5 separate regions of the Homo sapiens genome follow, and regions 1, 2, 3 and 5 are each linked to region 4. Evidence: fine-mapped expression QTL. A gene starts in region 4. Each other region holds a variant in brackets. All regions are shown on one strand. Distances are between the middles of the regions.

Evidence for each region. PIP is the estimated chance that this variant, and not a neighbour inherited with it, causes the effect.
Region 1: its variant is fine-mapped to the expression of MICAL2 in whole blood (TOPMed, PIP above 0.99).
Region 2: its variant is fine-mapped to the expression of MICAL2 in memory regulatory T cells (Schmiedel 2018, PIP 0.95). The same link has a PIP of 0.9 or more in T cells.
Region 3: its variant is fine-mapped to the expression of MICAL2 in whole blood (INTERVAL, PIP 0.98).
Region 5: its variant is fine-mapped to the expression of MICAL2 in cerebellar hemisphere (GTEx, PIP above 0.99). The same link has a PIP of 0.9 or more in cerebellum.

The regions. Positions count from the first base shown.
Region 1 is chr11:12,135,344-12,141,887 of GRCh38, forward strand. It overlaps MICAL2 (microtubule associated monooxygenase, calponin and LIM domain containing 2), which reads left to right. Exons shown (of 28, transcript NM_001282663.2): 2 at 3,047-3,117. Among named protein-coding and RNA genes, the nearest start is that of MIR6124, 25 kb to the right of the region's middle. RefSeq lists enhancers at 1,340-1,840, 3,571-4,114, 4,115-4,656. The variant T/C (reference allele first, on the strand shown) is at 3,104.
Region 2 is chr11:12,195,892-12,199,891 of GRCh38, forward strand. All of the region lies in intron 3 of MICAL2 (microtubule associated monooxygenase, calponin and LIM domain containing 2), which reads left to right. Among named protein-coding and RNA genes, the nearest start is that of MIR6124, 34 kb to the left of the region's middle. The variant G/T (reference allele first, on the strand shown) is at 1,779.
Region 3 is chr11:12,259,440-12,263,439 of GRCh38, forward strand. It overlaps MICAL2 (microtubule associated monooxygenase, calponin and LIM domain containing 2), which reads left to right. Exons shown (of 28, transcript NM_001282663.2): 26 at 356-458; 27 at 3,041-3,098. The coding sequence ends at 3,081. Among named protein-coding and RNA genes, the nearest start is that of MIR6124, 98 kb to the left of the region's middle. The variant A/G (reference allele first, on the strand shown) is at 1,922.
Region 4 is chr11:12,106,764-12,113,307 of GRCh38, forward strand. It overlaps MICAL2 (microtubule associated monooxygenase, calponin and LIM domain containing 2), which reads left to right and starts at 3,827. Exons shown (of 28, transcript NM_001282663.2): 1 at 3,827-3,963. RefSeq lists a silencer at 3,521-4,190 and an enhancer at 3,733-4,436.
Region 5 is chr11:12,047,054-12,053,597 of GRCh38, forward strand. The region is part of intron 1 of LINC02547 (long intergenic non-protein coding RNA 2547); the gene reads left to right. Among named protein-coding and RNA genes, the nearest start is that of LINC02547, 19 kb to the left of the region's middle. The variant C/G (reference allele first, on the strand shown) is at 3,613.

The DNA of each region.
Region 1 (6,544 bases), 29 kb after region 4:
AAACTGAGGTAGAGAGAGGTTAAGCAATTTGCCCAAAGTCACATAGCTAGTTAGGAGGAGAGCTGGAAGTGAACCCAAGCAGAGGGCTCCAGAAGTGCCGTTACCCACCCACTCTGATGCAGACAATAACAGACATCACCTCCAAGCACCTGCTCTGAGCAAGCAATGGGCTAAGTCCTTTATAGGATTATCTCATTTAATCTTCAGAGAAGCCCTATGAAGTGGGTGCTAACATCATCCACATTTTAAAAAAAGAAATTGAGGCTCACAGAGATGATGTGATTTGCCTAGGGCCACCCAACTAATTTAAAGTGACAGAGCTGGGATAGGACCCTTGGTTTGACTGATCATAGGGCCCAAGTTCTTAACTGCCTCACTGGGTAGCCTGCACATTTAGACACTTCTCTTGCTCTGTCTGCAGCTCCCCTGGTTTGGCTCAGCACCTGAGTCTTTGTCCACAGTCTGGGGAGGGGCTGGGATGTGGAGACCCCTACCTGCTGCATGCTGCTGAGGGGTCGGCTGTGAGGTTTGAGCTGGTCTCGATCTATCTCACACCGACCTACACCAGATGGTTCTTGAACAAGTCTTTAGTGCATTGAAACTCTGAGTTTATTCATTTCTTCATTCAACAAATATTTACTGAGGGCCTGGAGGCTCCAGGCCCTGTCCAAGTGCTGGGGTCCCTCAGGGAAGAGCTTAGACTCTGAAAACATCCAAGAGGAAGGCTCCCGGAGTTCCTGTCACTTGGGCCTGTCATGTCCCACTCAATCTCACAGGAAACCTTCCCTGTATCACCCAAATCAGGCCCATGAGGGACCAGAGACCTCGTGCTTCTTTGCTTGGCACTGGCCTGATGGCAAGTCCAAGGAGAGACAGCATTTCTTCATTCTGGTTGATTACAAAGGAAAATATAGTGTCAGGGAGTGAGCATGGGCGTGGACTCAGGCCAGCTCCATCGGGAGTCCCAGAGCTGCTGTGGTCTCTGCTAATCGAGACTTTGGGTGAAGCACTTCGCTGTGCCATGCCTCAGTTTCCCCCTCTGTAATGATACCGTACTACCTGTCTTACAGGGTTGCTGGGAGGATTAGCTGAGGTAGCAGTGTTAACTACCCAAGGCAATACCTGTACACAGGTTAATCCCTCCCTCTTATAACAACTAAGTAGTTTTGTCGGTGTCTCTAAAAGTCAGGGTACCTGGAGGGGGGCAGCTGAATGGGGTCCTAGGTGAGGAAATCACCAATTGTATCAAGCTCCTCATTTTATGGATGAGGGAACAGAGGCCCTGACCCTCAAAGGCCAGAAGGTATTGGGCTCTAGGACCTTCTAATTTGTTGGTGTTACAGGGAGCTCAAGTGTATTTGGCTTGTTGGTCAGACAAAGGGTACGAGTTGGTCCTTTGAGTGGCTGGACACAGTGTGCCCAGGCCTCTGTGAGCATCTGACCAGTGGTCAGCCCTTGTAGCCTGGTCCAGTCATACCTGCCTCCAACCCACCATGAAGACAGCCTAAGCTGAACCTTAAAGAGCCCCGTGTCCCTGCTGCTGGTCTCCGTAATGCCCTAGGGTGGGTAGGGACTTCTGTTCCTGAGATCTAGAGAGCATGGCGGGGTCCCTGGCTTCTGAAACTCTGGTTGGACCAATGATGGAATTCTGTACCAGGATGTCCAGCTCCCCACCCACAGATCCCAGAAGCTTCCCTTGAGAAGCAGGGGGCAGACAAGTCAAGGCCTCTAGCCGCTTTGACTTCTGGCTGGAAGCAGCAGCACCGAGCCTGCAGCACAGGCTGATAGAATGTGGCCCAGGCAGGCCAGCCTGTTTGTCAGCTGGCACAAGCCCCGAGGGGTGTGGGCTTGGTAATGATGATGACGGGCGGGCAGGGCTGCCGCTTCTGCCCAGGTGGCCGCCCTTGGAGCTCGCCAGGCTCGCCCGGTGTGTGGGCCCACCAGGACTAAATCAGAGTTGATGTCCAGTACACCTTTCCCTCAGCTTGGTGGGAAAGACCATGAGCACAGGGGCAGCCAGTCCTGGGCTCCAATCCTGCCTTGCTGTAGGGGCTTGGCAAGTGCCATCTGTTCTGTAAGCCTCTGTTTGCTGTCTGTGAGGAGCCACTGAGATCAAGCAGGTCTAGTCTCCACCCATGACAGTACACAGCACTTCATAGGCTGTCTCCCATTAACGGGCTGAGAATTCTGAACAGTGAGTCCCATCTCCCAGCACTCTAACAATGTGTGCTCTTTGTGTGCTAGAGAGAGAGAGTGTGTGTGTGTGTGAGTGTGTGTGTGGGGGGCACCACTCTGTTGAACAAAGTGTGCGTATACCTCCCTGGAGTATGAATATTGCCTCTTATAGATGTCAAATTTCACACCTGTGTTAGTTTTTGTCCCTTTGAGGTTACCTCTTAAATATTTTGATTTATTTTTTAATGTGGAAGTAAATCATTAGAAATATTTTGTAACTCTGGGCTTCGTTTTCCAAACAGGTGTAGAGGCATTTTCTGCAGAAGCAATAGGATGTCATGAAATAATGTGGGTCGTCACTGGAAGCCAAGAGAAAAATTAGTTTAGGAAACTCAGCCATGATCAGCTGGTGCACTTTCATAACTCCCTAGTTTACTCAGTGTTAGAAAATGGGACCCGTTTCACACTGGGGACTTGTTATCCAGTTTTACACCTGCTTGATTTACTTTCATTGTGTCTCACACTTAAAAATTCTGACACTTTCTGTTTTTACTAAAGCAGCGAATAAAGCATTGTTTTCCGGATCCCTCCTACTCCTCAGCAAAGTCTTTGTGTAGAGATCTGATAAGCCCTTAGGGTGCCCTGACTGCAGCCAACAATAGAATTTGTTTAGCCATCTTGCTATTCCTTTCTTCACGTGCAAAACTTGTTGGAGGCCAGGGAGAGATTCTCTGTCCATTTCCTCTTGCTGGGTGAAGTGTCCCACAAGGCAGAGTGCACAAGCATGCGTGACCTCTTGGAGGAGACTAGAAAGGAGGCATAAGCTACGATGATGTCACTGACATTAATTGTTGGGCTCTTGTTTTTAAAGGAACATGGCAACCCGTGTGTGTCTCATCCCAGAAAGAGAAGACTTTAACCACTGTGA[T/C]GCCTGAGAATCCAGTGAGTAAGTCACAGTGGTGGATCTTGTTTACCGTGGAGTAGCTCCTGGGGGCTGGTCCTAGGCTTAGGAAAGTGTGGGATGTTCCCACCATCCTGGGGCAGCTTGCTGTGCCCAGGGCGCGCTGTTCCCTCTGAGTCAGCACCACCTCCTCTGCACTCCCCTAGCGCTGTGTTCTTGCCTCAGATACACCACTGAGTTAGGGTTTGTTCACCTGCTTGTCCCACCTACCGGCTGTGGGAGCCTCAAGGGCAAGGAACCAGACTCCCGCCTTCCTGTCTGAGCCAGGCAGCAATTCCCGGCAGGCACAGTACAAGGCACATCACAGGTGACCAACAGCTGTTTGTGGACTCAAGGAGTCTCATCCCTGAGGTTTGATCAGGGCTTTTATGGTCCACAAAGCTTCATCACAAACAGTGTCCTATGGGAACCTTTGTGCCCTGGGTGGGGTGGTCACATTATCCTTGTTTATTTTATAGACATGGAGGCTGGGGTCTGAGGAGTCAGATAGCCTGCCACAGGTGGTGGTAGGCTAATAAGTGCCCAGGACTCACGTTTTCTGTGTCCCAGGCTAGCCTGGTTTCTGTAACCTTATAATTAGAAAGGTTGTTTAGAGTAAACCCCTCATTGCCAAACAGGGAGACTGAGGCCTGGCCTGAAGATTCTTTCTCAAGGTGACAGGGCTCACTGGTGTCCAATGGAGAATGGAAACGCAGGCCCTGGACTTCCTGTCTGGCGTTTTGGCACCCCTCCTCCCTCCTCCTCTGCCCTGCTCCTGTATTCAGCAATCAGAGAACATTTTGGGACCATATATCTGTGTTTACAGGAGGGTGAAGAACTTACAGAAAGCCATGAGTCAGAGGGAACATAGGGATGAATAAAACCCTCCCTTCTCTCCGGGAGCTTTCCTGGACATGTGAGCCTTGGCAGGGCGTTGAAGAGGCTCAGTTTAGTTGTGGGAGGAGGGAGGATGAAGGTGAGGGTGAGGGGAGAGCATCAGGGCCCAATCCAAGATGCTGGGGCATGGGCGGAGGCTCCGGCGGAGGGGCAGCCGGCGTGCATGTCAGGGCATTTGGCAGCTGGCCTGGTGGGCGCTGAGGGATCACGTGGGGTGAGGAGTCCACGGGAGTCCTGAATGGCAGGATGACAAGGGGTTGACTGGACCTCAGGGAAAGCTGCTCCAGGAATTCTCATTCTTAGTATCTGGGGAAAGACCCAGGCAAAGAGCTGATTGGCCAGTCTGCCACAGCCTGAGAAACTGTCCCCTCTCTGGAGAAACAGAATACAGAGTTTGTCCACAGAGGAGGGTCAGGCAATGAACAGTGAATTCCAATGTTGTCTGAAATGTGTAGGGAGGGGAGTGTGAGCAATTCTGGCTGGCTCAATCCTATTGCCCTCAAATGAATTTTTGTTTTGTTCTGTTTCTGTTGAACACACGTGCTGTTCTTCTCTCTTCCCTTTGGAATCTTGGGTCCCTCCTGGCTCATCCATTCAATCCAGGCTTGACCCAGGGCCAGGTGGGTCCTGGCTACTCTTCTGTGTTTATTCTACCTTTTCTTGCAACTTCCTGGACTTGAGGACTGGGACTGACTGCCAGTTTCATCTCCATTGGCAGGGTGAAACATAAAATTTCCCCAAATTACAGAGAATGTGATGCTTGCCAAATAGGTACCTTGGATTATTTTCCAAAGCATTCCCAAATTATATACTTCTCTAGGGCAGGGGAAGTGTATCATGTTGTATCATTATTATTTACACTTCATATTTCTTTGCACTTTATGTTTTATAAAGGTCATTTCATCTTCATGATCAAGCAGGTGGACTTCTCCCATTTTACAGATGAGAAATTTGCCTTAGGCAGGCGGTAGCCTGCCCAAGGCAATGCAGCTGTCTAAGGGCTGAGCTGGGACATGGCCCAGTCCTACTGTTTATAAATTCCATGTCTCTCCTCTGCTAAACTCCAACCATAGTAAATCTCTGGAGGGCCTGAGACCTAAGAGGAGCTCAATAAACACTTGTGGAATGAGTGAACTTTGGCTCTTTTTTTTTTTTTTTTTGGCCACTCTCAACCATAAGTGGACCCTCTTTGGCAGCAAAGAGAACACTACCCTGTGGAATATTTGAGTTTCTTGCCATGATAAGGAACTGGTGAGCTCTCTTCTCACCCAGCCATACCTCTGGGAACTAGGTCATGCACACTGAATAATTAATTCCTTGACTTTTACTCGGAGCTTCCTCCTCCTGACATTGAGATGCTACGTTAGACATTGATCTATGAGAGGTCCTTGGGAGAAGCAGATCCTACTGTTTGTTGTCACAGACCTTCAGTGACCCATCTAATTGCCCATGAATAATACCTGTGGCCTAAACAGGTCAGCCTTCCAGGCAGTTCACTCATCTCCTCCTTCTACCCTTCCCCCACCAACCTTCTCTAGACTGAGGAAGAAGGACAGGTGTGTATTATCTTAGATATGCAGGGTTCTGTACAGTTAGGGGAGCCTACCTCTTCCTTCTCACTGACCTCTGAACTTTTCCATATGTTGTGGCAAGGGCTGGAGAAACAACAAGAAAACCATGTCAAGATGGGAAAGAATTCATGGGCTCCGGGAGGCAGTTATCAAAATATCCGCTGGGTCTGCTCTTTCCCTAAGTGATACTTGGGTCATCTTTCTTCGAGTCTGCAAGGGATCCAGCTGGCCTTGTTAGACTCTTGAGGTCAACAGAATAGAGTAGAAATAAGAGTGGGCTGAGACCAAGAGAGCCATGTTCTAGTGTTGACTGTCCACAGCTTAGCTATGTGGCCTTGGGCGAGTCACAGAACCTCAGGGGCCTTCAGATTTCTTATTCAGGAATTCAGGGAGGGGTGGAGGTTTGGTGGTATCTTAAAGAAGTCTCCTTGACTTCTGTGGTCCTGGTCCTCAGTGTCTCTCTCAGTTTGTCCTTGTGATTAGCACTGTCTTCTCCTCCAGGTCACCTCCTCCTCATGTGGTCAGAGCTTGCTTCTGTAAGCACTTTCATCCTGATCTTTGTAGCTTTGCCATCTCTCCCCTGCGCCACCCTGAGTTATGCCAGAGTGCAGATAAGAACTTCCTGTTGTTGCCCTACTCTTCTGCCAAGCAGCATGGGAGAAAACTCTAACCTTGTGAGACTCTTAGAGATCTAAGGAGTGAAAGTTGGTTGGTATCAGAGGAAAATGGGATTAAAGGTTGTTGGGATTTTCAAGTCCTTGATGCCCCAGGGTACCTGGATTGTACTGAATTTTTGATCAGAGGGTAGTCAATATGTTCTTAAGAATATGGCCCCAAGTTGGCCAACCCTTGTGATCAGGGGTGACCAGACACTTTGGAGAAATAAAGGGAATAGCATTGGTAGAAGGTTGCTCAGTGAGAGATGAGAGATACCTCAGATGGACAACCAATATGAAAAGGG
Region 2 (4,000 bases), 88 kb after region 4:
GGGTCCTAAGGCCTAGCCACATCCTGTGATTCTGACTTCTGAGTGCCACAGGCAGACATGAAACGATGTGAGCTACGAGTGAGTGACATGATCTGACTTGAGGAGGACTGCTCTGGTTGCTGTATGGGGACAGACTGCAAAGTGACAAGGGTGGAAGCTGGGAGACCAGATAGGAGCCCTGATATCAGTTCAAAGGAGAGATGGCCATGACTTGGATAAGGAGGCAGCGTGTGAGCCGGTGAAAATTGATTGGATTCTATATCTGTTCTGAAGATAGTAAACAAGATTTATTGGTGGATTGGTTGTGAGGTAAGAGGAGAAGAACCAAGACTGATTCCAGATTTTTGGTCTAAGCAAGTAGAAAAGTAGGTAGCACTTACCAAGACCATGTTGATGGGGGAGAAGCAGGTTTTTGCAGGGAGGGAATAAGAGTTCAGTTGTAGATCTGTTATGTGAGTAATGCGTATTGAAGCAGATAGAAATGTCAGTGCACAGTTGGCTGGATTCCGTGGGATATTCAGGGTTGAGCACCATCAACATGTAGATGGTAATTAAAGTCATGGAAGTAGATGGTGTCAGGGTCAATAAGGGAAGGGTATAAAGGCTGAGCCCCAGGCACTTCCAGGTATAGAGGACAGGAAGATGAGGAGGAGCAGCAAGGGTGCCTGAGCAACTGCAGGGCAGGAGAGAGTCAAGAAAGTAGGTCAACTGTTTCAAAGGCTGCCCTGACTGCCTCTCTACCTCTAGTTTCTTTTCTCTCTTCTTACCATCTTTGTTATTGCTCTGGAACCAATTGTCCTAAAGTAGCACCTCCATCCTATTCTAAGCTCATAAAATCCAAAGGGGAGGAATAAAGTCCAAACTCTTCAGTCTGCCATCCAAGTCCCTCCACGATCTGGCTCTTTCTTTCTCTTTCTCTCTTTCTTTCTCTACTCTCCTGGTTTCACCTTCCCCACCAACCCCTGACCCTCACTTCACTGGCCACTGCCCTGCAAACCACCTCCCTCTTTCTCAGCATGCCATTTGTTTTCTTTCTGCAAATCTTCAGCCTCAATTCTCCATTCATGGTCTATCTCCTGGAGGGATCCTTTCTTGACTGAAGTCACTAATCTGTTTCTTCTCTAAATTCCTAAAGTAGTCAGAGGTAATACCAAACAATCCAGCATTCATTGTATCTGTTTTTCTTCTTCTCTAGTTCCCAGCCAATTTCCTGAGGTTTGGGAACATGAGCCTGTAATCCCCAGAGCCATCTCACCAGTCCTTTACATATCTTAGATGCTCTGCCACATAACACTTATGGAAACCTGGAAGGATTAATATAGGATTGGGATTTTGAGTATGGGCTCAGAGGCTAGGTTCTTCCCCTGGTTCTATTACCATGGCCAAGTCATTTAACCTTCCTGAGCTCCAGTTTTCCTATCTGCCAAATGGCTATGAACATGCCTAATTCAGGGTGATTGTAAGAACGATGCAGGATGCATTTCTTATAGTATGCTTAGCACACTTCATGTACATTATAAGCAGGCAATAAGCGGTAGCTTTGTTTTCATTATTGCTATTATTAATACTATTATTATTCTTGGTCTTCCCAACAGAGATGCACAGGCAACAACAAAGATGGGACTGTGTTGACCTGTTCACTCCATACTTTCAGATCTCAAGTGAGGTGTTCGACTCTGCTGCTGGCAGGGGTACAGGGGTGGCCCTCACACCCTGACTTCGGGGAACCTATGTGTTAAATGGGGAGATGCCATGAGACCCAACCGCTACCCAGAGAG[G/T]TACAAGCCCTGAGGATTGTGCTTAGAACTTCTAAACTAGGCAGCAGTGTGAACGAACTTCTGAGGCCAAAAGGCAGAATGTCTGCGAATAAAACTGTCCCTGAAAATCCAGACCCTGCAGCTACTGGTTACAGTTGGTCATGGAGGAGGAGAGCACTGGCTCAGGATGGAAGGGAAGAACAGAGAGAAACGGAATGTTTCTCAGAGGAATTAGTTGGTTTTTTTAGGGAACGTACAAAGCATAGGATACCTTTTTCCATTTTATTTCTGTAAATTTCTAAGATTGATAAGTGGTGTGTAATTGTTACTCAGGAATAACTGGATACAGAAGAGAGTCTGGAGATGTCAGGGCCATGTCAAGTCAGATGAGATGTAACTCCTTTCCCAGAGCAGCACTTGAAGTTCCCCTGGGGAGCCCCTACTGGCCAACCCCCTCTCAGAGATTCCTCCACAGCTAGAACCTCAGGTGATTTTGAGCATGTACCCTGGAATCAGAGGTTAGGTTTTCACCCTGGTTCTGTTACCACGGCTATGTCATTTAACCTTCCTGAGCTCCAGTTTCCTATGTGCCAAATGATGATGAATATGCCTAATTCAGGGTTACTGTAAGAATCAAGTGAGATGCATTTCTTAAAACATGCTTAGCACAGTTCTTGTACATTATAAGCAGGCAGTAAGTGTTAACCCCATCTCTCATGAGTAAACCCCAGCACTGCCCTGCAGGGGTGAGGCTGTGCAGCCAGGTCCCTATTGCAAGCCCTCCCCCAACACACACATTCTGGCAGGTGGGTGGCACCTTGAATTTGAAAACTCTCCATCCTGCGATTCTGAACCAAGCTGTTCTTATTCACGGTAAACCAGTAACAGCCAGGGGCTTCCTGCCTGGATTCAGATAAGTGGCTGGTACTGAGAGCCAGGGAGGCTGCAGAGCCACACCAGGAAGTATGGTGGCACGTCCCTGGCACCAGTGCACTGCCCTGGGGAGCTGGCCTGCAGGTCAGTGTGCTGGGAGGACTGCGGCTACCAGGAAGACAGCACCATGCATGACCTCCCCCATGCCCAGCTTGCTGCCAGGGCCACCCTCACCAAAGGAGGCTTGCACTATCCAAGCCCAAACTCCCACTGTGGTGGCACCTGCCAGTGTGACTTGCACAGGCTCAAGCTCTGTCCAGCCTATGATTTCCCACCCTGCGGAAGCACATGAAGCTCAGGCTGGACCTGGCTTGCTCGTTCCTTGCAGAGCCCCTGTGAACCCAGCCTGAACCCCAGCTCCTTTCAGGAGGCCACAGTGTGCTCAATGCAGGGAAGGAGCCAAGTCCTCTCACTTCATCCTGACCTCACCACTGAGGTCGGGCTTCACTGTCAGTCAAGCCGGTAAGAGCATAGACTTTAGACCAATAGTACCTGGGTTAAAATCCAGATCTGACAGCTTATTTGTTATGTGACTTTAAAGACATTTCTTACCCTCTTTACTCAAAAAGAGAGTTAATAAGAGTGCCTGGAGCAAGTTGCTTAACTTTTCAGTGCCTTAGTTACCTCACTTATAAAGTGGGGATGATCATAACACTTTCATAGGGTAGTTGCAAGGATGAAACACACAAAGCAAATAGGACAGTGCCTGGCAAATAGAATGTGCCAGGCACCGTGCAGTTAGGTCTCACAACTGTCCTTTCTAGGTGAGGTGCAGGGTGGGTAAGCCAGCTGGAGAACGCCACACCCTGGTCAAGTGCTAGCTTCTGCACTCGACCTCGCTGCAGTGTCTGCACACACAGCTCTCAAGGAACACAAGGGCAGGATTCGGAAGTGGAAATGAAACCTGCAGACTGCTAACCCCTGGCTTAGCACTTGGTCCCCTCGGCATCTCCCTCTGGGGACTGAATCTCTTATGCATTCCTGACTGCCCCAGCACACTTGCCCACTTGTAGGCTGGTGAGAGGGGCGGCTGGAAGATGCACCATGTCAAGAAGTGGGTTGTGTTTGCAGGTTCCCCTGGGGAGGAGCAGAAGTCACACGTGAGCTGGGGCCGCCCAGTCCTTGTGTCCTGACTGTGGGCTAGTTGGTCACCATCCCCCCATCCTGACCCTTGATAAAGAGCTGATTTTTCCATGAGGCGTTTGTCTCTCCTCTGTGCTAACGTGGAGGCCTGAACACCGCCGAGCTTATCTATACAATGGATTTCCTGCAGGTGTTGGTTCTGCCCTGCTCCCCACTGGGTAATAATT
Region 3 (4,000 bases), 150 kb after region 4:
TTACTGGATCTTTACGTCGTTGGAATTTTTTATCTTACAAATGTTTTTACAGTGTATGCTAGTATGCATGTTGTTATCCATATTTCAAATTATTTACTTGATGTATATCATTAGGAGTGAGATTGCCGATCAAAAGGCATGCATATTTTTGAAGGCTCGTGACTCCTATGGTCAGTTGGCCCCTAGAAAAGTGCCCGTGTTCAGCACCGGCTTCAGCATGAGTCGGGGGGCTGAGATTATTGTGGGGGCTGGTTGCAGGGTCTGGCGAGTTCAGTTTGTATTGGCTGTTGGCTTTGTTGAAGTAGTCCTCTGGAAGACTTACAGACAAATGCCCTCATTTCCATCTCTTTCTCAGGAGGAGGCAACATGGCAAGAGCAGGAAGCCCCTCGGAGAGACACTCCCACCGAAAGTTCTTGCGCAGTGGCCGCCATTGGCACCCTGGAAGGCAGCCCCCCAGGTATCTCCACCTCCTTCTTTAGGAAGGTGCTGGGCTGGCCCCTCAGGCTGCCGAGGGACCTGTGTAACTGGATGCAGGGACTCCTGCAAGCTGCTGGCCTCCATATCAGGGACAATGCTTACAACTACTGCTACATGTACGAGCTCCTGAGCCTGGGGCTGCCACTCCTCTGGGCGTTCTCTGAGGTCCTGGCAGCCATGTACAGGGAATCTGAGGGCTCCCTCGAGAGCATCTGCAACTGGGTGCTCAGGTGCTTCCCAGTCAAGCTCCGCTGACATGGCTGGCTGCCCCAAAGTGCCTTCACATTTCCAGGGAGGCTTCAGATGGCAGTGCGTTTGCAGTTTGCTCAGGCTCTGGCCAGGAAGCCTAGCATTCTCTAAGCAATTAGCTCAAAGCCAAAGAATTTCACATGGGCCACCTCCGCCTGGCCTTATCAGGGTGAACATCTACTCACGGTGCTAGGGCCAGGGATGATATGAAGGATCTTTTCTATAGCTTTGTGAGCCATACTTCTGGGTTTACATTTCAATTTTTTTAATTTTAATTAGCCCAGAGAAAGCATTTTTTTCTATGAGTGTCAATTTTTCTAAACATGGGTTTGAAGCTTATAACCAGTTTTATAAACCCCTTGAACACTGCAGTGAGTTATCAAAGCCACTGCCTGCAAAGTGGATGATTTAAGATTTTACACGCATGAAAATGAGTGTGCCATCTCCTGACCAGTGCCTTTTGACTTAGGTACCCAGATGCCACTTGTCAGCAGCAGGATACTTTTTACAACACGAAAGCATAATTATTTTAGAAGAAGAGAGTAGAAGGGCAGAATAGAATTCAACTTACAGAAGCACGGAGCAGTGTGTGGTTGGCTGTTATCTGTCCCCCTGGGAGGAGGACTGTTTTGCTCCCTTGTTTTGATGTTAAACAGTAGCTTAAAGGCTTTCCCCCCCATACCAACTCACAGCCAAATGACAAAGAACCGTGGGGTTTCAACAGATTCTACAAACATGCATTTTCCCTTCCCACTAATGGGCACTGCAGGGAAAGCCCATTGGCATTTGACCATGGAGCTGATGCAGTGCCAAAGATGAGCTCTTTCAACTGATGGCATTTTAGCCCCTGTGGCTCCCAGCGGATCCCCCAGCCCGGGCTGCAGGCTGAGCCAAGGCTGTGCAGGGTCCATATTGGTCAGGCCAAGTGGAGTGGAAGACTCTGTCCACTTATGTGGTGTCCTTTGGGACTGAGGGGGTTTGTTAGCACATCAGGCTATTGCTGGGAAGCGTGGCCTGCCCAGTGAGCATTGCCTGTGGACATCCTGACTGCTTAGCTGCTCCGCTGCCACACATATGTGGTCAAAACAGAAACCAATTTCACACTGCCCTGGGAAAGGAATGGGTCTGACCTCCAGGGGAAGCTCTACCATATCTTGACTGGCAGGGAAGGCTGGGAGTGGAAGCTATTTATGG[A/G]CTGATCCAAAGGACATATGCATGAGTAAGGGTAAAAATGAGCATGCAGGTCCACCTGTGTTCTTACTCTGGGTATCTAGAAGAGTCCTCAGCTCTCCCTACTCCACGCTGCCTAGACATACACAGCTGCAGGGTCTGGCTGAACAATCAAGGGGCCGCCAGAGAAAGGCCATCTACGGTGCGCAGTGTATCTGGAGTTGCTGGGCCCAAGATAGCTCTGTGGAGTTATCACTAGAGATGCCTCTGGATTAACTAAGAGGTGTGCCTGGGTGTGGGTGAGGAGTCAGAACCTTTGAGAGCTTTGAGATGACAGTTTCTATGGGGCGGGAAGAAGGAGGTGCATTTCTACAAACACTTCCCTGAAATCCTTGGGAAAAACAGAGGCATGGCCGTGGCCAACTCTGTGGGAACTGGCGCCTCTGTCCTTGTTGGCACTGTTCTCAGTCCGATGACTTGCATTGTGTTTTCTCCAATTTTTGCTGGGATTTTAATGTTCAGCATGGTGGGAGGAACCCTTGATTCCTTTTGTTTGAGTATAGAAAGTAAATTTTTGAGGTCATGATGTGAACGGCCATGTTATTGTGATTATCTTCAGCTCAGGATAGGCTGAGATGCTTTGTGGAGTGTTCCATGAAGCCCGAGTCGGAATCTCTGACTGTCGTGTACAGCCATAAGGAGACTGGTTTGAATTACTGTGGCGAGACAGGGCGTGCCTGTCAGAAATCTGAGATGTTTGTACGCTCTGAGATGTTGAACCTTTCTGGTGGGCAGCACCGACACCCAGGGGTGGACCCCCGAGGATGAATGCCTCTAGGCCTCCGCAACATATTCAAGAATGAATGGGAGACGCTAGAGTAAAATGGGGGCAGAGAGGATATCAGGGAGCAAGATGCAAACTGTGTGCATCCACTCTCGTAAACAAGTAGCTGGTCACAACCAGAAAGGTTCATCTCTCCTAAGCAAACAGCGACTCTTTCAGAGGAAGTTTCCCTCTTTCAATCGTGGCCTTATTTTCAACTCCGGTGCCTTCTCGTGATGTTAATCATTTCCTTTTTTCCCCACACTAAGCTCTCTTTTCTATCTTTCTCTCTCTTTCCAATCTTACGCCATGGCCATCAGTTCATTTCAGCCTTCCAGTGCTACACCCACTTCTTGGCTGACACACTTCTGCTCTAAGGTGACTGGTTTTCTTGCCAATTTTCAAAGAGTGGTACTAACCCCCAACCCGCTTTCCGCACCCCGTCCTCTCCGCCAGCAGTACTGGTTGCACTAACTGTGAGTGTCTTGCATACTGATGGACTCATTTGGTGGCATGGTTGGCTAACAGCATGGCGGGGGGTGTTCAGCTTGAGACCCATGCCTGTGTTCATTTCCCATGGAGCTGGCAGCCTGGTCTACCCCAAGTGCATGCCCCGCCTCTCCTCTCTCCCTTGGGTCTGCCTGCGTGCATGCTTCTCCAGTTGCGTCTGCGAAGCTACCTACTTTCTTGGGAGGGTCGACCTTGATCATGAAACAATACCATGAGGGGGCCTCTGTCACCTTTGAAAAGAACACTTTTTGAGCAGCCTCAAAAAGCTCATACATACCAGCGCCTTCTTAAATTGGCTCTAATGTAAAGATTGTTAATGTCATTTATCAAAACCATAGGTGATTATTTGGAGGGATTTAAAAAACTTAATTACTCTCAGGCCTCATCCCAAGCTTGACACATGCTCTGTAGGTTGAACACATAATCACAAATATTCTAGCAAATGCTGCCTTGGTTGCAGCCTGCACTGTAGACCCAAGGGTTTTGCTGTGGCTCTTCTTATCTCCCTTGGCTCATAAAGCCCCAGATGATGCCAGAGCTTCAATTAGAGCCATCATCATCCCAGGCAGGGATATCTTTGAGAAATGACTCAGTTCAGCCCCAGGCCCCTGTGACTCTGCTTAAAGCACACATTTCTGCTGACTCTTGTACCTGGGGCAGCAGGATAATCACCAACACACTCTTAACGAGAAACAACACACCAAGCACCGTGGAGCTGTCCTAGGCAACACTCGCGGTCTCAGGCTGCGGTGGGCGTCTGTCCTGCATGT
Region 4 (6,544 bases):
GGCCTTCCTTCTCTTCCTCCCTCTCGTGCTAAGTGGCCATCTGCATCTCCCAGACAACCTCCACAAGCAGCATCCTGGAAAAGTGGCCTGGGGAAGAGGTGGCTATTAAATATAGACTATTGAGCCTGCTTCATAAAGATATTGAGTTAGTTTGCCTGTCATGCTAAGAGTGAGAAAGGGACATTGCATGCCTGGAACACACTTATTCACTCACTCTGTGACCATCAGAAGCATCCTTCTATCTCTGGGCCTCCATTTCTTTCCTTTTCTTTTCTTTCTTTTTTTTTTTTTTTTTTTGTTGTTGTTGTTGAGATGGAGTTTTGCTCTTGTCGCACAGGCTGGAGTGCAGTGGTGCGATCTCGGCTCACTGCAACTTCCACCTCCTGGATTCAAGTGATTCTCCTGCCTCAGCCTCCTGAGTAGCTGGGATTACAGATGCACACCACAATGCCCAGCTAATTTTTGTATTTTTAGTAGAGATGGGGTTTCACCATGTTGGCCAGGCTGGTCTCAAACTCCTAGCCTCAGGTGATCCACCTGCTTCGGCCTCCCAAACTGTTGGGATTATAGGCATGAGCCACTGTACCCGGCCTCTTTTTCTTTTCTTTATCTTCCTTTCTTCCTTATTCTTTCTACCCTCCCTCCTTCCCTCCTTCTCTCCCTCCCTCCCTCCCTTCCTTCTTCTTTTTTCTCTCTCTCTCTTTCTTTTTTCTATTTTTGAGACAGAGTCTTGCTCTGTCGCCCAGGTTGGAGTGCAGTGGTGTGATCTCGGTTCACTGTAACCTCCACCTCCTGGGTTCAAGAATTCTCTGGCCTCAGCCTCCCAAGTAACTGGGATTACAGGCGTGTGCCACCACACCCAGCTAATTTTTGTATTTTTGGTAGAGACGGAGTTTCACCATGTTGGCCATGCTGGTCTTGAACTCCTGACCTCAAGTGATCCACCCACCTCAGCTTTCCAAAGTGCTGGGATTACAGGCATGAGCCACCATGCCTGGCCTCTTCTTTTCTTTCATCTGCTAGGTAAGGGATTCGATAAATATTCCTCTAAAGTTTGCCCTAACTTTAGATCTTTCATTTGAAGAGCTGAGCTGTATAACTCCTAGACATAGTCACAGCCCAGCAGGACATCCCATGGTGACTGCTTAGTCCAGAGGAAGGTGAGTTGTGACATCCTTAACCCATTCCTCTTCTCTCTCCAGGAAGATGGTCAGCAAGGGTGGCTTGTGTGAGGTGGTGAGTGGCTCTGGCCACTGGCTCAAGAAGTCCCCAGGTTTATCTCCCTCCATGCAGTTAACCCTTCTCAGTTCCCAGGTTGCCCTGCGTCCAAGGAAAAGCTCACCTCTCAGCCCTCAGATGCACCCACCTAGCAAGAGTCTTTCTTATCTGAGCCCCCTGAGTTAAAAAGATTGGGAGTAGGGTAGGGGAGAGGAGGCAGAGGTTCTGGGAATGCATTGGTAAGTTCTAATTTTTAAGTTGCTTGAACTTCTGTGCTGAGCAATGCTATCTTTGTTAAACTTGGTTGGCCCACAGTGCTCCTGAAATAGCATTAAGCTTGTTTTAATCTGAAGGGAGAATGTTGTGCTATTGGTAAGGTGATAAAACTGTAAAAAAAAAAAAAAGAGTAATAAAGAATACAGCTCCCAAAGCACTGTGGTCTTCTTCTTCTTCTTCCTCTTCTTCCTTTTTTTTTTTTTTTTGAGATGGAGTCTCGCTGTACGAGCAATTCTCCTGCCTCAGCCCCCTGAGTAGCTGGGATTATAGGCATGTGCCATGATGCCCAGATGATTTTTTGTGTTTTTTAGTAGAAACGGGGTTTCACCATATTGGCCAGGCTGGTCTTGAACTCCTGACCTCAGGTGATCTGCCCACCTCAGCCTCCCAAGTGCTGGGATTACAGGCCTGAGCCACCATGTCTGGACAGCATTGTGTACTTCTGATTATTCATCTGTTGCATTATAAGTTACATGAGTGCAGGAACCACATTTGGTTCGGAGTAGGGTTTGTTAAATGAATGAATGACTCTGTCTCCATCTCTATCCACCACATGGGTGTCTCAGGTCCAGGCCAATAGCAAGAGGCTTTATGTCCAGTGTAGTTAAGGTGGGGACAGATGTAACACTGCTTCCTGAAGCTCCTCACTGCCTTGGGTTTCCTGTATCACTCTTCTAAATAAGGTAGGGCCAGGCCAGTGGAGTCTCCTCTCCCTTACAGTGCCCTGGCCTGAGCTTGACAGACTGTTTGGATGGACTGGGAGTGGGTCAGGCCTAGAGCAGCTCTTTCAGGGTTAGACTTGACCTGTCAAGTACCCTAGAGGCATGGGCAGTGCTGTAGAGGCCCCAGCACATAGTGTTTAGGCATGTAGATTCTGGAACCAGATCTGGCTCAAATCCGGACTCTGATACTTACTAACCATGTGATGTTGACCAGTTGCTTTACCTCACTGGTCTCAGTTTCCACATCTGTGAAATGGGATGATGATACAATACATACCTGTCAAGCCAGGCTTAGATGAGATCACGTGTGAAGGGCACTCCCCAGGCTGGCATCACAGGCAGATTTCCATCAGAGTGGAGTGCTGGCCCTCTGAGAGTACAAGCTGACTGGGCCTTGCAAACTGGGTAGGAACAGCTTTTGCTGGAAAGTTCATCTACAGGAAGTTGATTGAATTCTGAAGAGAGAGCTAAGAGAGCTGCCAGGTAGGACAATACCTGGTAAACACCAAAGGGCTGAGAGTAGGATCACATGGCAAGAAGTAGAGTAGAGAAAAAATAATAATAATCTGCAGGTTTGGGGAGGCAAACTGTTCTGTTTGCACTTGTCTGGCAAGGGAACATGGTGTCTCCTGGAGGTGGTCTTGTGCTGGGGAAATTCCAGCAGCCTGGAGCCACAATACTGTTTCTCACTGCTCAAGCCTGCCTGTTTTCCTCTGCCTAGGTAGCTCAGTTCCAAGAACACTTATTGATGCTTACACCGGGCCAAGCCCTGTGATGGGCCCTGGGTTCCAGAGGTGAGTCAGACATGGTTCCTGCCCATGGAGATCCCCATTTCATGATAACTGCTACAAGAGCCGTTTAAACACAAGGTGTTTTACAGTAGTTATAGTCTACAGAGTGCTTCTGATTGCTCACTAGGCCCCACTCCATTCACACTGTGTTGTCTGTGAATGTTGCTCTCTGGAGCTGTGGGGGGTAAGGGTAACCCGGGAAGGTGGGCAGAGCAGAGATTAAGATAGGGATATGACAGCCAAAGGTAGAGGGTGTTTAGGTGATCTGACCAAGGTAACACAGGTAGTCTGCACCACCGCCCCCTTCCCACTAGCTTTAGCCAAGCAAGGCCAGGTGAGGGGAAGATCCTATTAGCTAGCAAGGAGGTTTGCGGAAGCTCAGGGTGGTCAAGGAGCCGAGCAAAGAGGGAGGTCCACAGGACGTACACAGTCGGTACTAGAAGTGCCATGCTGCTCCCCCATGTCCAAAAGGGGATGCCGTGTCTTGCTTTCCAGCCGCCTAGACCAAGAAGCGTGAGGCCCAGGCCCTCGCCGCTCCCTTGATACCCGCTTACCAACACCGGGGGTTTCATCTCGCAGCGCCACCACGCCCCACTCCCAGCAGCCCTCCCCTGGTCTCCGCCCTGTGCGGGTCAGGGTGGGAGCGCCCGGCCACTCCCTGCGTTCTGGGCCGGGCTACAGCCCACGTGCGCCGGCGGCAGCGGCGGTGACAGCCGGCCCCACGGGGGCGGGGCGGGCTCCGTGCTGTCCTGTCATTGGCCGCGCCGCTGTCGGGGGCGTTCCCCAGCCCGGTCCACCGCGCGGCGCAGAACCGCAGGCGCTCGGCTGGCTAAGCCTGCGCCGGGCCGCCTCGCTCGCTCCCAGCTCTGTCAGTGGCCCGCGGGGCCCGATCGCTGCGCCCGCGGCCAGGGCCGAGGCAGGCCTGACCCGGGGCCGGGCAGCCCGCGCGACTTTCGGTAAGGCGGGGGCGGCGCTGGCCTCAGGGTGGGGAGGGCGGGCGGGCGCGGGTGGGGACCGTGCCAGCCTCGGCTGGACTCTGCGCCGTGTCCAACGCCCGGGAGGGTCAGGTGCGGCCGCAGCATCCCCCGCCTCAAACCCACCCGGCGGGGCGCACAGTGAGCAGGTGGCGCTGCGACGAAGCCCGGGGCGGCCCTGGCCGGCCTCTGAACCAATTAGAACGCAATAAAAGCCTCCCACCGGCACGCCGAACTACCTCTTACTCCGCTCCGCAACACCCAAACCCTGCAGTTCCAAGCCTAGAAAATCGCAAGCGCCAAAACGGGGTGGGAGTGACGCGCCTGCAGTGCTGCCTGTCACCTGGCAGAAGACCATCCCCAAACTTCCCAGGATTGGGGCTCCGAGCCTTGCACGCCCCGTTCCAGCTCTTCACTGGGCGCCCTTTTCCCCCTCCCCTGTCCCCTCCCTCTTTAGTAACAGGAAGTTAAGTTGGGCCAAATGTCAGTGGCCTGGCTGGCCGCGGGCTGGAGCCCAGTCGGGATGGGGTCGTGGCAGTGGTCCGAGGGGCCGCGGCACTGTCCGCTCTGCATCGCGTCTCCCGCATCCCCAGTAGCCCGCTCTCGCTCCAGGCCCAGGAGCACCCCCGCAGGGTGTCCGCGGCACCCACCCTGTAGGTGCCTGGCTGGCCCCGGGGAGAGGTGGGATCTTGCCCACAGCGTCTAAGCCGCTGCCGGGCCAGACGGGGCAGGTGGGGTAAATTGTATTCACCGCCAGCCTCACTGGCAGAGCTGGGAACGGCCTTTACTGGATGGGGATGAGGGGATGTGGAAACCAGAGTAGTGTGCCTCCTTCCACATTGTTTATTCTGAGGCCTGGGTTCTTAAAGCGGAAAGAGCTTTTATTTGGAAGCCTGTAGGGCCCCGCCAGGCCTACAGCAGTGTGCCGGCTCTCTTGCTGTGATTGTCGCCTGTTAACTACAGTCTACAATGATTTTGGTGAAGGATGAAGTCACCAGCCAGGCCCCTTGTGGGCTGGTCCCACGGGAGAAAAGCCAGAGGCGAATTGGCCCTCCAGTGTTTGTGCCAGGTTCCCTGACACCTGCACTTACTCTGTCCTGCTCCCCCTCCCCAGTGGCAGTCGACCCAACAAGTGGGCCTCCGGTCTCCAGGGTAGTCCTGTGCAATGCCCTGGAGACTCTAATACCGTAAGAACTCACTTTCTTCATGCAGAGAGAAGACGGACTTATTAAGTGCCTACTGGGCAACAGGTCCTGTCTTGTGGCACTTTTGCAGCCAATTTCATGGTTATTCCAAAAACGCTGAGAGTTTTGCCCTCCCCATTTTAGAGATGGGGAAAGAGGCTCAGGTATGGTAGGTGCCCAAGGTCACACAACAAGTGTCTGAGCCAGGTCCTGGCCCTGTCAGTGTGAGTCCAGTGCTCTTGTTTCATGGCTGTGGGAAGTGGTGTGCTGTGTGCAGGACCATGGCCCCACAGCGTGCTGACTAGAGCCTTCCAGCCTCTGAAAAGATGCTCTCCACCAGGATTTCAGGGGATGCTTCTTTGGCAAAACAGTTGAAGTGACCCAGGTTAGCCAAGTTGTTCAACCTGCAAACCCCTTATCCTCCCCCTAGTCAAGAGTAGTGGATAGTGTTGGCCAGATTGCTATGGGGAGGGATTGGGTGCTATTTTGGAAGGAAGCCTGCTTCTACCATTGACCTGGCCTCACCTCTGAGAAGCTGGCTTCTGGTATAGTCTAGGAGGACTGTGTTAGCTGAAATAACCTCTACCTTAGGACTGATTCTAGTTTCGTGGGGCTTTTGGGGGTGGGGGGGCAGGTGTTGGGGTGTAGTGTTATGGTTGTGGGGTAATTGAAATCCAGTTTGAACATACCTCTATAAAAACATGACATCACTTTTATCTCCAGCCCCTTCTTCCTTTAGGCCTAGGGCTCTGGCTTTCTGCTCATCCCCTCTTTCAAAAGAAAATCATGATAAGTCATGATTTTCATGACTTATTTTCATGATGTCATGAAAATCATGAAAACTGATACCAATCCATTATACTTTAGTATAAATCAGCTTTTAAGAACTATGCCTGGTTGTGGCTGTGGCCATTGGAGGCCCATTCCCAGGCTGCAAGGAGCAGCCATATGATCCCAGATTCCTTCTCTGCCTATAATTGGGGTATGTTTCTGTTCTCTCCACCCACACCTGGGTTTGCCTCCCAGCCATGGGCCTGCCCCCTTTGCTTCCCACTGCTGAAGTATAGAGGTCTTGTCTTCTTGGTGGAAGCCTTGGCTCTGGCAGGACGGGACGTGGTAAGGGTAAAAGAATAACTTGGTTAAACATTGCTGATCCTAGATGTCCTCTGAGGGCTAACAGTCTCTATTCTTTAAAGAGTCAGAGAAGAGAATACTGTTCATCATGCTGAGATGTTTCATTCTTTACATCATTCTATTGTTTCATTCTGCCTCTAAAGAAGTGGGGTTAACTGCATTTTACAGGTGAGGAAGCTGAGACCCAGAAAGGTTACAACTTGGCCGGGTGTGGTGGCTCATGCCTGTAAAACCAGCACTTTGGA
Region 5 (6,544 bases), 60 kb before region 4:
CCTGGTGATCACCCTCCCCTTCTCCTCCAGGGCTTTCCCTGGCTGCCCCCTCCACTGCAAAGTCCTTTCCTATCTCCTCTCTCCCTGTGGCCAACTCCTCCACTTCAGAGACCAGCCTTGACTTCACATCCTCTCCTGCTTCCCAGTTACCTCCAAAAGGGCCTCTGCCAAGCCATCCTCTCTGGTTTCTCTCTGAAAATCCAGGGTTGGCACAGTGTGAAGAGTGCACAGGGGCCTAGAGGCCTGGGCTCTGGAATGCTCCCGTTTCCAGACTCAGCTGCCTCCCCTGCCTCTTCCCCAGGGCTGCCAGTAAAGTGCCTTTTCCCTGCAGGAAAAAGAGCTGCCCCAGTTGGGCCTGGAAAAAGGGCAGGCATTCCCTCACTTGGCTGGCCAGGGGGGCTGGAAGTCTTTGACAGCCCTGCGGTCAGTCCCAGGGCCAAGTCCTTGTCCCCTCCTGGCAAATTTATGCGCACCTGAACTCTGCAGGATGCCCAGGAGGGGGCGCCAAAGTGCTGCCAAAAAAGAACAGTTTGGGGCATATGAATCAGATGGCCTCGTGGGAGTGCTTAGTGAGGGCTGGCTCTGAGTTCTTTTTACCCCAGCCCCTGCCCAGGGCCAGGCACTGTGTGTGGAATGGAGGAAAGGACACCATGCAAGAACTGACAAGGTCCTGCACATCTCCTATGCTGGCATTTCTTACGATCACAATGACTTTGGTGTTCCAGGCCCAGAGGCTGGGAGCTGGCAGGAAGCTTGACCATTGTGAAGAGCTAGTGTGCCTAAAGTGGCCTACAGATTTGTTGAGGGAGGCTAGGTGGGGTCAGGAAGGCAGGACCCCTTGAGCCAGTTGCCTCTGGCAGCAAACAGTCTCATTATTGCGTAATTAGTATTTTCTATGTTGACTTGACATGGACGTGGTTGGGAAGCACTATCCAATATGGAAGCCACTAGCTACATGTGACCACAGTACTTACGTTTTAATTAAGATTAAATAAGCAGGCTGGGGGGTGGTAGCTCATACCTATAATCCCAGCACTTTGGGAGGCTGAGGTGGGCAGATCTCTTGACCCCAGGAGTCTGAGACCAGGCTGGGCAACTTGTTGAAACCTGTCTCTACCAAAATACTTAGCCGGGCATGGTGGTGCATACCTATAGTCCTAGCTACTTGGGAGGCTGAGGTGGGAGAATCACCTGAGCCCAGGAAGTTGAGGCTACGATGAGCCAAGATCACGCCACTGCACTCCAGCCTGGGTGACAGAGCAAGACCCTGTCTCAAATAAATAAACAAATTAAGATAAAATAAAATTTAAAATCCAGTTCTTTACTTCATTAGCCACATTTCAAGTACTCGATGGCCACATGTGGCCAGTGGCTCTCATGTCAGCACAGAAATAAACATTTCCATCATTGAAAGTTCTGTTGGACAGTGCCACCCTAGAACTTGCTCTGATCTCTTGTGGGTAGGGTGTGCTTTAGAATTTCAGAGAGTTCACTGTTAGCATGCTGCCTCCCATGGATATGGTTGTTACAAGGTTATGAGAAAGGCAGTCAGACCCACCTAGGATTAACCCCTGATTTTGCTGGTTACAAGCAAAGTGTCCTCTATGCAAGGGCTCTGCAGGGCTGACACGGGACTTGAGCATCCGCAGACTTTGGTATTCAAGGGGATCAGGCAACCAAACCCCCACAGTTAGCAAGAGACAACTGGACTACTTTTGTGGCTTCAGAGAAGTCACTTAATCTCTTTCAATCTCTGTTTTCTCATCTCTAAACTGGGGATAATATCACCCTGCCGCCACAGTTATTATTAGATGAGCTAAGACAGATAAATCACAAAACGCAGTGCCTAGGACACAGTTTTGCGGCCTTACCGCCCCAGCCGAGTGTGCCTTTCTGCGTGCACTCACCCACAAGCCCTCATCCCCTGGCTATACTGTGTCCAGACCTGTGTCGGGTTCCACATCTCGTTCAAAGGCAGCACCGGGCTTGATTCTTGCACCGGGCTTGATTCTTGCCTAGAAGGAGATTGCAATCTAGGTCAGAAGGCAAGATAAGGCCCATGAAGCAACCTGAAAACAATTCTTAGGCAACACACAGGGCAGTGTGTCATCCCGTGAGCCAGAGTCTGATGGGAAAGTAGTGTGGGGTGGGAGGCTCTTCTAAGTCCTCGTAGAGAAAGTGGGTGAGATTAGAACTGGTCTTGAAACAGCGTAGAGTTTGGACCGGCAGAGCCAATGAGAGAGAAGTGGCAGCAGGGAATGGTGTGAGGGCAGAGGAACAGCGTGAGCAAAGAAATGCTCAGAGGTGGGTAAGGGAGGGGCCAGAGCTAACACAGTATGGGGCAGCTTGGCCGAGGTGCTCAGGAAGGGGACACACTTCCTGAGAAGAGAATTTGCTAAGAAGATACTCAGATCTTGGAAGCCAGGCTGAGTTGCTTAAGTTTAATGAGACAGGTGGTCATCAGGCAGGCGGGGCCTTGAGCATGGAAACTGGCAAGGCCTGGGGAGGATTGCACTGACAGCAGAAGTCGGAGGTCTGTGAGGGAGATCCTGCAGTCAGGGTGACGTCAGCGAGAAGTGACACCAGCGGCCTTCCGGGGCAGTGCATGGTACCATTTACAGAGCGCTGTTAACATAGCCTGGGCTCAAATTGCTGGGTCCTAACACAGTAACCAAAAACTGGACTCCATTGGTCTACACAACAAGTCAACATCAAATTGGGAAGGAGCAGTGGGTAGGCACCAAGAAGAAACAGAGCAGAGGAAATGCCTGTCACAGTGTGTCAAGATCTGAGCCCCAGCCCCTTAATCAGTTAAGAAAAAGAACAGGGGCCGGGTGCGGTGGCTCGCGCCTATAATCCCAGCACTTTGAGAGGCCAAGGCGGGCAGATCACGATGTCAGGAGTTCAAGACCAGCCTGGCCAACACAGTGAAACCCTGTCTGTACTAAAAATACAAAAAATTAGCTGGGCCTGTAATCCCAGCTACTTGGGAGGCTGAGGGAGGAGAATCACTTGAACCTGGGAGGCGGAGGTTGCAGTGAGCCAAGATCGCGTCACTGCACTCCAGCCTGGGTGACAGTGCGAGACTCTGTGTCAAAAAAAAAAAAAAAGAAAAAAGAAAAAGAACAGGTACAAGGAGGAGAAGAAGGGGGTGTCTAGAAAGAGGACTGGGTGTCTGAGAAACAGGGCTGGGTGTCACATCACACACATACACAGGCACACACAGTCACATTCACATGCCTGTACACATAAACACATATAAGGACACACATATAAGCCCCCCAACTTACTCTTCATGCTAATCATACCCAGAGACCCTTAAGGATACATGCAAATGCATATGTACGGGCACACATCAATACGTATGTGTATATACACGTGTTCTTCCTCAGCCCAGCCTCTCCTTTTAGGCCTGGAGCTGGGGCTGACATTGGGTTTACATCAATCAAAGCCACTAGGAAACGTCTATCCTGCCTGGGCCCAGAGTCCATTTCTGACAGAGGCTTCTCCAGGCTTTACTTGTAAACGCTATTTATTTTGGAAAGCAACTTCTCTGTTTTCAAATAAAACGTTGGGACATGCAGTATTGGATTTCCCTGATCTGACATTGAC[C/G]TAGAAAAATGTGCTGGCAGGAACAGAAAATGCGATGCCCCACTGTGCTGGCAGGCACAAGAGTTTCCCTCCTCTTGGCTTTGATTGCAAAGGTTAAGATGCAAGTGAGAGAGCGCAGTTCCCCCTCCCTGCCTGAGCAGCACTCTCCCTGCAGAGCTGGAGGGAACTGGGGGCCATGTTTAGGGGCTTCCTGCAGGTTTTGGTGCTTGTGGTCTTAGGGGCATGCTTCTGGGTGGGGAGCTTATCACAGAGGGGCAGCTTGTCACAGGGCTGGTGGCCGAGGCCAGCATGTAGAGAGCAAACAGCTCCAGGATGTGCAAAATATGAATAGGGCCCAGCTATGGGGGTCCCCACGGTTGTCATCAGTGAAAAGGGCAAAGCAACTTGAGCTCTGGGTGAGGTTTGAAGCCAGTTCCTGTCCCTTGGGGAAGAGGTTTCCTGGAGGCAGACCTGCCAGGTCCAGCTTCAGGTGAAGGTCATGGCCTGCTGCCATCTGCAGCGGCCTGGGCACCAGTTGCAACGGTTAGGGGCAGAAGCTGGGAGCAAGGGCTGAGGCAGGAGCCCCACATCATGGTGGGAACCCAGACACCTGTGGTCTGCTTGCGGGGGTGGGCCCTGGTCTAATTAGCAAAGGAGGCTCAAAAAGCAATACACAATTCATTGCCCCAGCTGAGCCACAGAATCTCTCAGAGTTCCTCAGCTGCTCCAGTGACTTAATTCTGTGCCTGTTAATTCTGTTCCTATTCCACCCACATCCCTTATGGCCTCTCTGAGGATGAAATGAGATCAGAAATGTAACATGCTCAGCCAGGGCCGGATGCATAATAGGTAGGCTCGGTAAACGTGAGAGCAAATCCCAGCTTCACCACTCACTAGCTGTGGCGCCTTGGGCGAGCTCCTCCTTGGTGCCTTAATTTCCTCATCTGTAGAATGCAGATAATAACAAAATGTACGTCATAGAACTGTTGGGGATTAAATGAGTAAATATTTGTAAAGCACTTTGAACAGTGCCTGGCACTTAGTAAGCGTGATAGCTGTTTGCTATAATATTAAATTTACTCTTTTTGTGTGTGACAGGGTCTCACCCCGTGCAATGGTGTGATCATAGCTCACTACAGCCTCTACCTCCCAGGCTCAAGCGATCCTTCTACCTCAGCCTCCCAGATAGCTGGGACTAGAGGTGCACCCCACCACACCCGGCTAATTTTTTATTTTTTATTTTTTGTAGAGACTGGGAGTCTCATTATGTTGCCTAGGCTGGCCTCGAACTCCTGGGTTCAAACAGTCCTCCCACCGTGGTTTCCCGAAGGTCTGAGATTATAAGAGTGAGTCACTGTACCCAGCCTTAAATAGTATTCCTAATGGTTATTCATGTATTTATTCATGAATTTATTCAACACGTCTTTCTTGAGGGCCCACTATGAACCAGGCACTGTTCCAGTCACTGGGGCTATAGCAGGGAACAAGAGACACTAGCCCTGTGGTAGGTATAATGATCCTCCCTGCCCCCAAAGACGTCCATGCCCTAATCCCTGCAATCCTGACTATGTGATGTTACGTGGCAAGAGAGACTTAAGGTTGCAGGTGGAATTAAGGTGCTCATCAGCTGACTGGGAGAGAGGGAGGGTGCCTTGGATTATCCAGGTGGGCCTAACGTAATCACAAGGGTTCTTAGAAGAGGGAGGCAGGAGAGTCAGAGAAGGAGGTGCGAGGATGGACACGGGGTTCTAAGTGATGTGATTCCTGGCTTCTTCCAAGATGGAGGAAGAGGCCACGACCCAAGGAAAGCAAGCGGCCTGTAGAAGCTGGAGAAAGCAAGGAACTGGAGTCCCCTCTGTAGGCTCCAGAAAGGAACACAGCACTGCCCTTGATTTGAGCACAGTCAGGTTTCTGACCTGCAGAACTGTAAGATAATACATTTCTGTGTTTTAAGCCACTAAGTTTGGTTTGCGGGGACTCGTTATAGCAGCAATGGGAAACAAATACCAACCCTTCCTCATGGAGCTCATATTTTTATAGGGGGAGCACAACAATAAAATCAACAAAATGCAGTGTGTGCAGCAGGCAGCAGCAGTCGAGCTGGCCCTTGCAAGTTGGCCATCCCGCTAGCCGTGGCCGCCCCCACTCCTAGTGTCCCTCTGTTTACCCATGGCTGAAGGGCGGGGGCTGCTCTGCCCATTGGCTTCCAGGCTCTGGCTGGACACACACTGCTAGATCTCGCTGGCTCCTGGGCTGGGGAGGGGCAGGTGCGTGGTGTCTAGCCCAGGAGTGGGTGGGACCTGCTGCCAAACTCTGGGGCAATTAGCATGTTCCTAGATTCCTGTGGGCGAGGAGATGAGAAATCGTGATTTGTCAAGGCCGGTTGGGAGTGAAAGCCAAAGCCAGGAGGCCGCCTCTGAGTCTCCCGGGTTTCTGTAATTATAATTACTTGATTGGGCATAATAAGGTGCATCCGAATCTTCCCATTAGGAGGCCATAAAACAGCACTTGGGCTTTCATCTTGCCCAGCTGCTTACTGAAACCTCCCTCTTTTATCTTCAATGCCTTTAATTGACAGGTCTGAGCCCAGGGAGCTACTTCTGGAGATGCTGTGGTCTGGGGTGGATCCTGCCTTCTCAGCCCCTGCCTGTTGAAGTCACTGAAGTCTCTGCTGCATCTCCGGGCTTCTGCTGAGCAGGGCTGGAAGGTCTTGCTTGAGGAGCTGAAGCCCACCAGCAGGTGGGGTTTGCCACTCAGGTGTAGCTCATAGACCTTGAAAGGATGGTGCCTTGTGGCCCATGTTCAGGAAGTCAGGTTGAGCACTGCTCAAGGGCACCTACATCTAAGGGTTATCATCAACATGGTAGACATGCTAATTTACATGAGCACACTGGACGGGAGATTGACTAGGCCTCCAGGCAGGTAGCTGGGGAGAGCACCCTTTGGCCTAAAT